Homo sapiens: one gene and its partner. The protein of the gene in region 2 interacts with the protein of the main gene of each other region in a pairwise test. Each region holds a gene or a part of one and is shown on either strand. Other genes may lie near its edges.

Evidence for each region. The genes of interacting proteins can lie anywhere in the genome.
Region 1: the proteins of USP33 (region 2) and RALB interact in a two-hybrid assay, tested with the Homo sapiens proteins (one study listed by BioGRID).

The regions. Positions count from the first base shown.
Region 1 is NC_000002.12:120,255,489-120,262,856, forward strand, and holds part of RALB (ras-related protein Ral-B), read left to right. Parts: intron 1-7,368. UniProt on the Homo sapiens protein: Multifunctional GTPase involved in a variety of cellular processes including gene expression, cell migration, cell proliferation, oncogenic transformation and membrane trafficking.
Region 2 is NC_000001.11:77,721,853-77,728,852, forward strand, and holds part of USP33 (ubiquitin carboxyl-terminal hydrolase 33), read right to left. Parts: intron 6,861-7,000; coding exon 6,443-6,860; intron 3,911-6,442; coding exon 3,770-3,910; intron 1,592-3,769; coding exon 1,479-1,591; intron 345-1,478; coding exon 172-344; intron 74-171; coding exon 1-73. UniProt on the Homo sapiens protein: Deubiquitinating enzyme involved in various processes such as centrosome duplication, cellular migration and beta-2 adrenergic receptor/ADRB2 recycling.

The sequences.
Region 1 (7,368 bases), on a different chromosome or scaffold from region 2:
TAGCTCCTCAGTTCTTTTGGTACCTAGGAATATAAATATTGGTGTATGTGTACATATATTCTTAGATATTCCAAAAAGCAGAGGGGCCAGTAGGCAAGAGGGTTGATGAGTCTTGGATAGGTGACAGTGGAAAGAAAGATGAAGAGGATGTGGAAGTGAGTGTCAAAGAGGGACGGTATATGTGCTTACTAGAAGCAATTGCAAAATTCTAGCCAGGTCTCAATTTCAAGTTTGTCACTTTAAAAAAAGTAGCTGCTTATAATTTTCCTTAGTGTTCTCCTGGCTGTTTTTGTTTTTGGTGATGGTGGCTAGTTGTTTTTTAGTTGAAATCTAAATGCAGAAAAGAAAAATGCCATTAATTGATAATTACCAATATATTGTTTTCATTGTTGCTTTTGTCAGTGCTTTGTGGGCATTTTTTATATATAGCATTGTTCCAAGCTATACGGCATGAGATGAAGGAAATATAGTAGTTTGGTCCTGCGTGCCTGGCTGCCTGTAAAGTTTGCCTACCTTTTGAATGAGTTTTCTGTTGCTGCATAACAAATTTCCCCAAACTTAGCAGCTTAAAACAACAGACATTTATGATCTCACACAGTTTCTGAAGTTGAAATCTGGGGACAGCTTGGCTGGGTGCTTCTGGCTCATGGTCTCTCCTGAGGTTGCAGTCATCTGAAGCTCGACTGGGACCAGAGGATCTGTTTCCAAAATGGCACGTTCACATGGCTGTTGGCTGGAGGCCTCAGTTCTACACCATGTGGGCCTATGCACAGGGCTTTTCACAACATAGCTTTTCTCCCCAGAGCAAGTGATCTGACGGGGGTGGGGAGAGAGGGAGAGAATGAATATGATAATGATCAAGATGGAAGCAGCAGTATATTCGTGGCTGATATGGTTTGGCTGTGTCCCTACCCAAATCTCACCTTGAATTGTAATCCCCATAATCCCCATACGTTGTGGGAGGGACTCGGTGGGAGGTAATTGAATCATGAGGGCAGTTTCTCCCATACTGTTCTCCTGATAGTGAGTTCTCACGTGATCTGATGGTTTTACAAGCGTCTGGCATTTCCCCTGCTGGCACTCATTCTCTCTCCTGCTGCCCTGTGAAGTGGTTCCTTCTGCCATGATTGTAAGTTTCCTGAGGCCTCCCCAGCCCTGCGGAACTGTGAGTCAATTAAACCCCTTTCCTTTATAAATTACCCAGTCTCGGATATTTCTTCATAGCAGCATGAGAACAGACTAATCCAGTGTCTAATCTTGGAGATGGCATACCATCCCTTCTACCAGCATTCAGACCAGACCTGGCACAATGTGGGAAAGGACTACAAGAGGGGAGGTCAGGGCACATCAGTATTCTTGGAGGCTAGCCACCACAACTTTTTTAAGGTTTAGTCCAGACATCATTGAGAAAATCTTTCTTTCAGATGTTTACTGAAGTATACTGTAGGAGATGGAAAGACAGCTGAGGTCTTTAGTATTGTAGAAGCTTTAATACTATATGTGAAACTTTTATGTTCTTTCTTCCGGTTCTTTGTTAGATGCTGGAATTAGCCAAGTATGCAGTAGCTTTGGAAATAGAAATTCAGATCTTGCTGGTCCCTAAACCAAAAGGAACATCTGAATTTTTTTCTTTAACCCCAAAACAAGTTGGTAAAAAAATATTGCCAAAGTAATCTCCTTTGATGAATGGCTTAAAATTAGTCATTCATTATCTGTGTGTTCTTAAAAATAAAACTCATTGGCAAAGTAGCTGAAAAATTTTGGGGAACCTAAACCCTCTTACTCCTCCCCATTATTTTAAAACTTTGGATACTGCTTGTTTGCCTAGCAGTTCTTCAGTTCACTTTTGAGACCCTCATACATTTTAATTATTGACCTGGATAGAAGGGCGCTATTCTTTTAGCTCCAGATGAAATCTTCCTGAAGTGCCTATAGGTGGAGAGAAGAGTTTCTGGATCCTGAGCCTGAGCCTGGCTAAATGACCTCTAAGTCCCTTCCATCTCTGAAAATTCTATGATCCTTATTTTTTTTTTATAACGAATATCCTTTGAGTTGTGCATATTTATAACAAAATATTTCATTGATCATGTTAAATTGCAACCTCAGAAGACAAGCTTTTCTGAGAATAGCTTTTGTTCTTCCCAATCCAGTTGAAGGTTGTTAGAGTCACTGTTAGGCAGAGTTGAAAAGTCAGCACTATTTGCACTTCCTCTGCTTCCTATTTTTGGCCCCTTGCCCATCCTCTGCCCTAATTTATGAGCTAGTATCTTTCTTTTCTTTCATTCTACTTTCCTTGTAATCCCCCTCCTTCCTCCCACAGGAAGGATTGGTGGCCAGTCCTTTACTGCTGATAGCTGATGCTATTGTTAGGAATGAATTTTAGCCAATGTGTTACCTCTAGTAATACTTGCATGGCAAACCTTTTAAAAATCTCAAATTATATGTGTTCATGTAGTAAACACTGCCATTTTTTAACATCCTAAGTAGCCCTAAAATTTAGTCACTTTCCTCATGTGCATTGTTGTCTCCTTAGTCCCCACCGTGTTGCCGGCCTGGCCTGGTGCATACCCACATCTGCTCTTGACCCCTCTGTTTTTCTACTCTGTAGCCAGAATTACCTTTTCAACATTCAAGCCTAATTATGTTACCCATTGACTTGAAACACTTCAGTGGCTTTCCAGTGCTTTCAGTCAAAGGTCCCAAATCCCTCAACTTGGCCTACACTGGGGTCTTGAATGATCCCGCCCTTCCTTACCTCCTCAGTGTCATCTTGTACTGGGCTCTGCCTCTTTCTCTCTGCTGCAGATAGCTGTGAAGGTCTTTCTCGAGTTTCTTGAGTGGACTTTGCTTCCTCTTGCTTCAGGCCTTCCTGAATGCAGTGTGTGTGTGTGCAGGCACGCGTGATTGGGGGTGGGGGAGTGTGGAGGAGTCCTAGGTAGGAAAGCGCTTGGCACATTCACAGGGCTGGAAGAAGGCAAGGAAAAGGCCACGGAGGCCACGGCCAGTGGAGGGTTTAGCTGCCGCTCATGGTGAGCCTTTAAGGAGCGTTAAGCACAGTTTCATGTGCAGTGTTAGAAGCCCCATTGGAAGGGCTGTGTGGAGAACAGATTGAAGAGGGGCTGGAGTGGTAATGAGGGGTCACTTAGGAAGCTGGGGCTGTTGAATGAATGGTGGCAGAGAAGATGGAAGAAGTGCATGGCTTTGAAATGTATGTTGGAGATGGAATAGCTAGAAATGGTCATGAATTGAGCTGGGGAGAGGCAATGGGAGTCAAAAATGACTTCCAGGTCCCTGGCTTTGGTAACGATACGGATACTAGCGTGTCCGGAATTGGTGGGTTCTTGGGCTCACTGACTTCAAGAATGAAGCCGCGGACCCTCGCGGTGAGTGTTACAGCTCTTAAGGTGGCACGTCTGGAGTCTGTCCCTTCTGATGTTCAGATGTGTTCGGAGTTTCTTCCTTCTGGTGGGTTCGTGGTCTCGCTGGCTCAGGAGTGAAGCTGCAGACCTTCGCGGTGAGTGTTACAGCTCTTAAGGTAGCGCGTCTGGAGTTGTTCGTTCCTCCCGGTGGGCTCGTGGTCTTGCTGGGCTCGGGAGTGAAGCTGCAGATCTTCGCGGTGAGTGTTACAGCTCATAAAAGCAGCGTGGACCCAAAGAGTGAGCAGTAGCAAGATTTATTGCAAAGAGTGAAAGAACAAAGCTTCCACAGCGTAGAAAGGGACCCCAGCGAGTTGCCAATGCTGGCTCGGGCAGCCTGCTTTTATTCTCTTATCTGGCCCCACCCACATCCTGCTGATTGGTAGAGCCGAATGGCCTGTTTTGTCAGGGCGCTGATTGGTGCGTTTACAATCCCTGAGCTAGATACAAAGGTTCTCCACGTCCCCATCAGATTAGTTAGATACAGAGTTTCCACACACAGGTTCTCCAGGGCCCCACCAGAGCAGCTAGATACAGAGTGTCAATTGGTGCATTCACAAACCTTGAGCTAAACACAGGGTGCTGATTGGTGTATTTACAATCCCTGAGCTAGACGTAAAGACTCTCCACGTCCTCACCAGAGCAGCTAGATACAGAGTGTCGATTGGTGCACTCACAAACCTTGAGCTAAACACAGGGTGCTGATTGGTGTATTTACAATCCACGAGCTAGATATAAAGACTCTCCACGTCCCCACCAGACTCAGGAGCCCAGCTGGCTTCACCTAGTGGATCCCGCACCGGGGCTGCAGGTGGAGCTGCCTGCCAGTCCTGCGCCATGCACTTGCATTCCTCAGCCCTTGGGTGGTCGATGGGACTGGGCGCCGTGGAGCAGGGGGTGGCGCTCGTCGGGGAGGCTCGGGCCGCACAGGAGCCCATGGAGTGGGTGGGAGGCTCAGGCATGGTGGGCTGCAGGTCCCAAGCCCTGCCCCGTGGGAAGGCAGCCAAGGCCCGGCGAGAAATCGAGCGCAGTGCCGGTGGGCCAGCACTGCTGGGGGACTCAGTACACCCTCCGCAGCCACTGGCCTGGCTGCTAAGTCCCTCATTGCCCGGGGCCAGCAGGGCTGGCTGGCTGCTCCGAGTGCGGGGCCCACCAAGCCCACGCCCACCCGGAACTCCAGCTGGCCCGCAAGTGCCGCACACAGCCCCGGTTCCTGCTCGTGCCTCTCCCTCCACACCTCCCTGCAAGCCGAGGGAGTGGGCTCCGGCCTTGGCCAGCCCAGAAAGGGGTTCCCGCAGTGCAGTGGGGGGACTGAAGGGCTCCTCAAATGCCACCAAAGTGGGAGCCCAGGCAGGGGAGGTGCCTAGAGCAAGCGAGGGCTCTGAGGATTTCCAGCATGCTGTCACCTCTCACTAGTAGTGACTTCAGTAGCTAATAAATGGGGGATAGTGAAGGAGCAGATTTTAAGAGGGAAGAATCAAGAATTCTATTTTGGGAATAAGTTGAGAATCTTGTGGCAGCCCAGTGGGCAGGGGCAGCAGCAAGGCTGTGAGCCTGGGGCCAGGAGAGCGGTCAGGGCTGCATCCTCAGGTTCGTAAGTTGTCTGTACAGCCACTGGGCTGTATGTGGTGCAGATGAGGAGGGAGCAAGACTGAGCTCCGAGAAGTGCTGACATCTAGATGGGGAGGAGGAATGCCTGGCAAGTGGCGCCGAGAAAGGGCCCAGAGAGCCACCCGGGAAGCACTCAGCCTGTGGGAGAATGTGGGCTGTGGAAGCCAGGAGGGATGGCCTCAGGAGGGGGACGCTGGAAGGGGCCCTATACAGGCCTGCTGCGGGCCTTCCCTTTCCAGGCAGCGTTTTGTCACTCTTGCTACTTGCTCATTTTAAAGAGGAGGAGGGCATGGGAAGGAAGAAAGAAGAGTTTTTATTGGAGCTAGCTACGTGGAGTTTGTGGGTGATCTTGATCTCACAAATTTCTGTGAGCTTATATTGGGAGGAAGTTGGATTGGAATGGTTTCCGTAAATAGTGAGGGAAGGAAACAAAGGCTTTTGCTACACAGTGTGGGGTCTGTGGGTCAGGAACATGATTAGAGACTAGGTTAGTGGTGCCAAATCTTGGGCTCCACTCCAGACCTACTGAATCAGAATATGCGTTTTCACAAGATTCCCAGGTAAACTATGCATTAAAGTTTGAGAAGCATTAGCACAGATAATTCCTATAGAGGAATTGTGTCATTAGCTAGAAGGATATATGGGGGTCAAAGGCACACACGCATGTGTGAATCTTTAGGGTGAAGATTCAATAGAACGTGTCTACATGCTGTTGGGGATGATCCTGTAGCAAAGTAAAGACTGATTGATGCTGCAGGAAGAAGGGTAGTGGTAGGAATTAAGTTCTTGGGCATGGTGGTGGTGGAGGGCTTGGCCTTTGCTAAGAGCAGGAATGTGTACTCCATGAGGCTGGAGACAAGGAGAAGAAGGGCGTGGAAGGTTTGTAGATTTGTTGAAGGAGCTCTGAGGGAGTTAGGGTTTGATGGCTTGGTGTTCTCTGGGACAAATGAGGTTAGGTTATCTGTCAAGAGTAAGCAGAGGGAGGGCACAGGGGAGAGTCACAGCGAGATTACTAGGAAGTGTGGGGGAATGCCCATTCGTGGTTTGTGATCATAAGTGCATTGAGAGTGGAGTGCTGGGAGGCTGCTTTCTTGAGTTTCTTTCCCTCGACAGCAGCATTTGCATGCTGGGTGCAGGTGCTGAAAACAGTGAGTGAGATGGAGGGGAAGGGAGCAGGGAGATGAGGTATCTGCAAGAGGGCTTTTCTCATGTCAGGCTTTGGGATCTAAGCTGGTGAAGGGAGGCAGTGCAGCCCAGAGGGTCTTGTTATGCAGAGAGAGAGTGCTGGAGGCCAATGCTTGCAGGTGTCAAGAGGGCAGAGAATTGTGTGTGGGGGTGGTATTTGAACAAGTGAGCAAGAAGGATGGAGGCTGAGGCTAGAGGGTTAGAGGAGATAACTGTTTCTGGTGACGGTGAAGTTCAGGTAATGACCATGATAATGTTAGATAGAAGGAAAGAAAGGGTTTTCGGAGAAGAGAGGATCAAGGACTTGAGAGGGGCCGAGCTTGGCTGGGACATCCACATGCACAGATGTCATTGGGGAGGACGACAGGAGTTGGGTAGAATGGAAGTCTGCAGACCAGAAGCAGATGTCCTCAATAAATGAGGGAAGTGACCAGGAAGTCTGTAGCTGATAGTAACAAGGTGAAGGACAGGCTATTATGGCTGGAAAGGCCAGGCCTCAAAGGTATGGGGGCTTTTGTAAGACGGATGGGGCTAACAGAGGTACTGAAGTGCAGGTGACATTGGGGAGGGAGGAAGGACACATATCTGGTCTGTCTGGCCCTGAAGCACATGGCATGGGAGGAGAAATAGCATCTGCTTGATGTGGTGTCCCCAGGGCACACCCAGGTCTCAGAGCTAGAAGGTAGAGGAACATTCTTAGAAGAGGTGGAGGCTCTCGAAGGGTTTGCTGGTGTGCCTGAGGTTGCAGGGACCAGGTGGGTTAGCCATTTCAGGAGATGGATGCAGTTCTGTTGGGTTGAGAGCCCTAGTCATAGGAAAGAGTGGGGACACCTGCACTTCTGGTGGTGACTGTTCAGGACAGATGTTCAGCAGTGTGCTCCCCTTAAGAGGAGGGTGGTCCTGTTCTAGCACCGTAGTTCCCAAACGTGGCTGGGGAGGTGGCAGCTTCCTTGTGTGATCCTCTCAGCCTTCACATACTGACACAGCAGGGAAGAGAAGGCAAGACTGTTTCTGTTAGAGCCGTTTCGGGAGTTGCTGGGGAGATTTAGGACAGGGACATCCTGAAATGCCCATTGGTTATGCCTCTAAGGCAAATTACGCTGTGTTTTGGGTGATGAAGAAAGAAGGGTGTGAAGGGCTTCTGTTGATGAAAATC
Region 2 (7,000 bases):
GAAGGCAGCAAGACAATCTTGCAAGGTTACTACTGGACCCCAAAACCAGCTAGGGACACATGAGACAACAAACCTGAAACATCATTGATAGAAAAAAAAGGAAGTGTTCTGCCAGTACAGCAGAAACAGCAGGTTTAACAATCATGTAATACAAAGAAAATAAATACATACCTCTTCACATATTCCATGAAAAAAGCTATCCACCCTTGTGGAGCATATGCTTCGCCACATGATCCTGCTTTGACTATAGAAGTTGGATGACTTGATGAATGCAGCTTAGCAAGGTCTTCCTTGCCAGGAATTGGCAAGGACAGATCTTGAAAGGTCTCGAGGGTTACAGACACCTAAAATTGTTTTGTGTTTTAAAAATGGGATGAACATAATGCAGTAAAACATTTCCAAGGTTAGATTTTAGACTCTAAAGATCAAAGCATGTTTAAATAAGCAAAAAAAACAAAAAACAAAAAAAAACACGCAAATTGAACTGCTTTCATAGTCATAATAGCAAAAAAAAAAACAAAAACAAAAAACAAAACACACTTGCTCTGTACCAGGTATCTTCACGTAAGTCCTGTGCAGTAGTATTAGCATCCCCATTACAATCACAGACACTGCAGCATTAAACACCCCAAATCCAGCCACTGCATCTTGAGGTCCAAACTCTTAAGCACTATTGTATTTATTTTTGAAAATTGACCTTTGATGGTAGTTTTAAAATATTTTTTTAAAAGGGTGAGACAAAATCTGGCATCTAATTTTAAATAGCTAAAAACATGCCTGATAATTCCACTTAAATATTTAGTACCAAAATAACCTACATTAAAACGACCCGATTGAAAGTTCTTAGATTTGACTTGAGATTCTAACACAATAATTGAAATCTTCTTTTTGTTTTTGAGATGTTATTTCATATTCATCATTGCACTAAAGTAAAACTGTACTTAAGAAAAGCTCAAAGAAACTTTGAAGAAGTGTTATTAAAAAATTCATGATGATTTTAATGTATGCTTTGTTATTGTCTATGAATTTGATACTACCTTTAGTATCTGAGTCCCATCCTAAACATGGAAAAATATTTACAAACCATATATGACCAAATGTAAGAGATACATTCACAGCTTTGTACCTGTGAATATCAACAGATTCCCAGTATACAAATTTCATCAGCCTGGGAGAATATGCAGGTGTTACCAATTCTTGTTGCTGAGCAACTTCTCACCTTTATATGTAACCAAAATAGATGACGAAGGATAATATGTGCCTGTCCAATGATGGGTCACCATCCTTTAAACAGGATGCTGCTACTTCCAAAAAAAATTCTACACCTAGAATCAAATTTGTGTTGATGTAAACACAATAAATGCATGTATGCTCATCAATAGCAAAGAGAAGGAATTAAACTTTTCACATCATCTTGTCACATTTTTAAAAATCATTTGACACGAATTTTCTGTGTATTCTAATACCCTCATACTCACCCTGTCACAAGTCAGACACTGCACTGAACTAATGATTGTTCCATCAAATATGTCTGAAATAACACTTCTGTATTTCTTGTGCTGTTTTTTTCTCTTTGGAGATGCAGACTGAGCTAGGATTGAAAAACATTAAAAAAAAATCAAAGCAGCTCCTTTAACATTTTTCTCTGGAATCTTTTTTTGTCTTGTCAATCTTACTTGTATATGATCTCTAGAATCCTTAAACTGTAAAAATTACTGTGTTGAAAATTTTCAAAATACTCTTCAAAAGAGCATAAGTATTAAAAAAATAAAAGAAACTAAGCAGACAAGGCTTAAGATATTTGTTGTTTTTTTTTGTTTTTTTGTTTTGAGGTGGAGTCTCGCACTGTTGCCCACACTGGAGTGCAGTGGTGCGATCTCGGCTCACTGCCAAGTTCTGCCTCCCGGGTTCATGCCATTCTCCTACCTTAGCCTCCCAAGTAGCTGGGACTACAGGCGCCCACCACCACGCCCAGCTATTTTTTTGTATTTTTAGTAGAGACAGGGTTTCACCATGTTAGCCAGGATAGTCTCGATCTCCTGACCTCATGATCCACCCACTTCAGCCTCCCAAAGTACTGAGATTACAGGCGTGAGCCACCGCACCCAGCCTGTTTTTTTTTTTAAAGTATAAATGATCCTTGGCCACCATAAATGTACATATGAGAAAATGAACAAAATTCTAAATTAGCACAAAACCACAAATGCTTCATCACTGGGATGTTTACTTAAATGTTTTACAAGTCAAAAGAAGAGGGGAAGAGGTTAGAAAGTGAGGGAAAGATGATGAAAGTCATCATCAAGCTAAAGATGAAATAGAAGGGGTTCGGTCTCCCTATCCTGACTTGAGAGCAATTCTGTTTTCACTTATTTGTTTTTGTCTCCAGGTAAGGCTTTATTTGAAGAAAAGATTCTATTATTTAAAGTTTTTAAGAGTTCTTTATATATTTCTGGATACATGTCCTTTGCTAGCTATATGATTTATAAATACATCCAACCTTATCTTTCCATTCTCTGAATGTCCTTTGTCAACAAAAATCTTTAATTTTTTTCTTTAATGGATCATGCTTTTAATGTCTTTAAGAACTCTTTGTCTAACCCAAGGCCATGAAGACTTTCTCCTATGTTTTCTTCTAAGAAAACATAATACTGGAACTCCCATATATACCTGGAAGGAATACTAAATGGTAGACACTCTGGTAAAAAGTCTGGCAGTTTAATACAACTATAAGCATTAAACAAACATAAAACCCAGTAACCCCACTTCTAGGTATTTGTCCTAGACAAATGAAAAAATGTTCTTACAAAAACCTATACATAAATTTTAGAGCAACATTATTCATAATTGCCAAAAATTGGAAACAATTCAAAAGTCCACCAGTAGGTAAATAAACAGTGGTATACCCATAAAAAATGAGATATTAGGCCGGGCATGGTGGCTCATGCCTGTAATTCTAACACTTTGGGAGGCAGAGGTGGGGAGATCACAAGGTCAGGAGTTCGAGACCAGCATGGCCCATCTCTACTAAAAATACAAAAAATTAGCCAGGCATGGTGGCGTGCACCTGTAGTCCCAGCTACTCGGGAGGCTGAGGCAGGAGAACTGCTTGAACCTGGCAGGCAGAGGTTGCAGTGGGCCAAGATTGCACCACTGTACTCCAGCCTGGGCGACAGTGAGACTCCATCTCAAAACAAAACAAAAAAAAAGAAACATTACTTGGTAGTAAAAGGAACAAACTATTCAGACACGCAGTAACATATCTGAATTTCAAATGCATTATCCTGAGAGGCAAACCTGTTTCAAAAGACTACATATGAAAAGATTTAAAAAAATCAAAAGACTACATACTATATGATTTCATTTATATGACATTCTAGGAAAAGGCAAAACAATAAGAAAAGAGGATCAAGGGTGCCAGAACATAGGAATAGAGAAATGATCTGATTACAAAGTAGTACTATGCAGGAATTCTTTGGGGTGTTAGAGCTGTTCTGTATTCTGTTTGTGGTGGTGGTAACAAGAATCTATGCTGCAAGTGTTAAAATTCATAAAGCTCTATACAAGAAAAAGTGAATTCAACTGTATGTAAAATTTTAAAAGCAGAGTACCAACACACAAAATTTTTAATCATGTCTATGTAAAATTATGCTATCAATTTTAAAAGATCAAATCATATTTCATAATTAACACTTTAAATTATCAAGTACCAAAACCATCATTTTAAACTAAGACCCAAAGCAAAAGAGACTGAATAAGAGAAACGTTTTACCTTTTTTGTGTGGTGGTGCCAATCCTGGCCACAAATTGCCTGATTTAGGAGGGCTTGCCGATAAACGTGGATTAACACCTTCATTTGATGGAAGGATCTGTGGTGTAGACAGGTCATTCGAATGGACATCAGTGATATATTCTGTAAGATTTAAAATTTGCATTATTACCTTAAATAGTAAAATTATTCTAACTGTCCAATAATGTTAAAGGTTTCTTAATTTGATATTTTGAACACAATCATATTAACAAATGTCAAGTTAAATACTTAACAAAGTGCTTACTAAGCAAAATAACAGTAATCTTCTACCCAGAAATCCAACTAATTTTTGTTTACTTGTTTTTTTGAGACAGAGTCTCCCTCTGTCCCCCAGGCTGCAGTGCAGAGGTGCGATCTCAGCTCACTGCAACCTCCGCATCCTGGATTCAAGCGATTCTTCTGCCTCAGCCTCCCAAGTAGCTGAGATTACAGGCATGTGCCACCAGGCCCACCTCATTTTTGTATTTTTAGTAGAGATGGGGTTTCACCATTTTGGCCAGGCTGGTCTCAAAGTCCTGGCCTCAAGTGATCCACCCACTTTGGCCTCCCAAAGTGTTGGGATTATAGGCATGAACCACCGTGCCCAATCCCAACTAATGTTTATAACACACGACTATTACAGGCAGTTTAGGAAGTGAGCAGTGGAAATACAAAGCCAAAGAGGATCTTGTTTGTCCAAATATAGCATTAAAAAAAAAAAAAGAGGCTAGGCTGGGTGGCTAACGCCTACAATCCCAACACTGGGAGGCCAAGGTGGGAAGACTGCTTGAGCCCAGGAGTTCAAGACCAACTGCGCAACATCATGAGACCCCCATCTCTACAAAAAAATCTAAAAATTAGCTGGGCATGGTGGTGTACACCTGTAGTGCTGGCTACTCAAGAGGCTGAGGTGGGAGGATCACTTGAGCCCAGGAGGTTGAGGCTGTGGTGAGATGTGATCATGCCACTGCACTCCAGCCTGGGTGACAGAATGAGACCCTGTTTCAGGAAAAAAAAAAAAAAAGATATTCAGGACAGGTTTTTAGAAGTTCTAAAACCATGTGAAAGAAAAATCGATTATTCTCCCAAACTAACATAATAATCAAAATCAAGAAATGTAGGTATAAAGTAATCATAAGTTATTTTATCTTACTATAATAAAAAATACACCACTTCATCAGGAAAGAATCTTTTTTTAGAATTAAATTATAAGATGAATCAAGAAAATATAAGAGCTACCTTGATTGTTTGCTTTGGATTCCTAGTGCCTAACATATTCCAGGGCAAGGGAATGTGCTCAGTAACTATTTGAGTGAAGAAAAGAGAATTGTTCGTAAGAGATCTGGAAAGGGGATGTACTCAGAAATTTTTCCAGATAATGCAAAATCATTTTTCACACAGGCATTTCTCAATATTTCAATCATGACTAAATCAGACTGCATAATATTGGGAGTGAAAAAACAACTCACTCTAGGACTTTCTGAAGGGAATAAAGTTAATGAGATTTAGATGGGGAGTTGGCAATTTTTTCCTCTAACGGACCAGAGATGAAGTGTTTTAGGTTTGTGTGCCTTACAGACTTCGCCAGATTTTTTTCATCAAGCCCTTAAAACACCTAAAAGCTCAGACTCCTGATTTAGGTCATCCCCTTGTTACTATGTGTAAGAACAAACCTGTTACAGAGCAATCAAAGATGAGTATGTCCCTAATCAGGCTTAACTGGGCTTTTGACAAGAAAAGCCTGGACAGCAGTCAAAGCTAAGTCTTTCAATACTGATACCTGACATATTTATTCACTAACAACTTCTACACAAGATCAGTATAATTAAGGAGCCTAACACTCCTAGTCTTCCCGATTAGAAAGCATCTGTGCACTTTACCCAAGTGAACCACAAGTCTTCCTATAGTTAATAATATTTTCAAGAAGAAATTTTGGATTCATTCAAATACCTAAATAAATTGCTTAGTTACTCTCACTCTTCAGTAATTACAGAAAATAAACTTTTTTACATTACATGTCTGCCACTTATTTTAAGATCACATAATTTGAACCTCTAATGGCCCAATTTTGTGTGCTTTGGAAAACTACATACCACATTTTAAGCCAAGATAAGTTAACTCTTGAAGAGATAAATTACAAAGCAATTCAACTTTCATTTGGCCACATGCTCTTTCTCAAAGGAACACTGACTAGTATCATGGCATAATCTATCACAGCAGGGCTCACTATAGTTAATTCAACTTCTACACTAAAACACATCTGATGTGACTCCAATGACAACAATCTAAATCTACTAGTGTATATAATTAGAAAATTGCAATTTGGGTTATTTGCTTTTTTCCAGGATCGCAACATAATTTGCTTAAAATAAAAGAGAAAATTCTGGGGAGCCCAATTTTTTAGATTACTGCATGACTACACAAAAGACATCTGATGAAATGTTTACTTCAAAAGGAGGATTAATTTCTTATATAATTAAATGACCCAAAAAATTCCTTTTATCCTCGGGTTCTATAATTTTATGACTAATACTCACATGCAAATACTGCTAAACTATAATTCTAATTAGAAATACCCAAAGTAACAATTATTTAAACACCCATGTCTACAAATGAAATACTATCATTTTCATGAACAAACTACTAAATTGTCACCTGAAGCTCTGCTGTGTATTTGCACTTTGACAGTTTCCTGGTTGTTTAAGTCGACTGTTTCAGATATAGAGTCTCTATCTTTATCAAATTCGCCTTCAGAATTTACTTTATTAATCTTATTGCACATCTTCTCTTTTTGCCAATCCTTTGACATTTCTGAATTGTTTTCATCATCCTGAATTAACATTGTTGTTTCATTATTATCTTCAGAAAAGCATCTAGAGCCATTTTCATTTTCTGCTCTATCACTGTTGCTACAAGATTCACAAGACTGAAAATCTACATCCGACTGGCTCTTGTCTTCTTCCATTGTCTCCTCAGTGGTTATGGTTTGCGGATCTTCTTCTACTTCCATGACTTGCTCTTTCAATTCTTCATGAAGCAAATCCATTAAACATCGAAGGAATTCTTGAGCATCCTAATATATCAGCAACATAATGTTAACCACTTCATTACATGTGTATATAGAAACGTAAGGGAAAATATACAAAATGTCATTACAAACTTATATATGAAGGTACAGCACTATATTGAGCAAATACCAGTTTGGAGAGCATA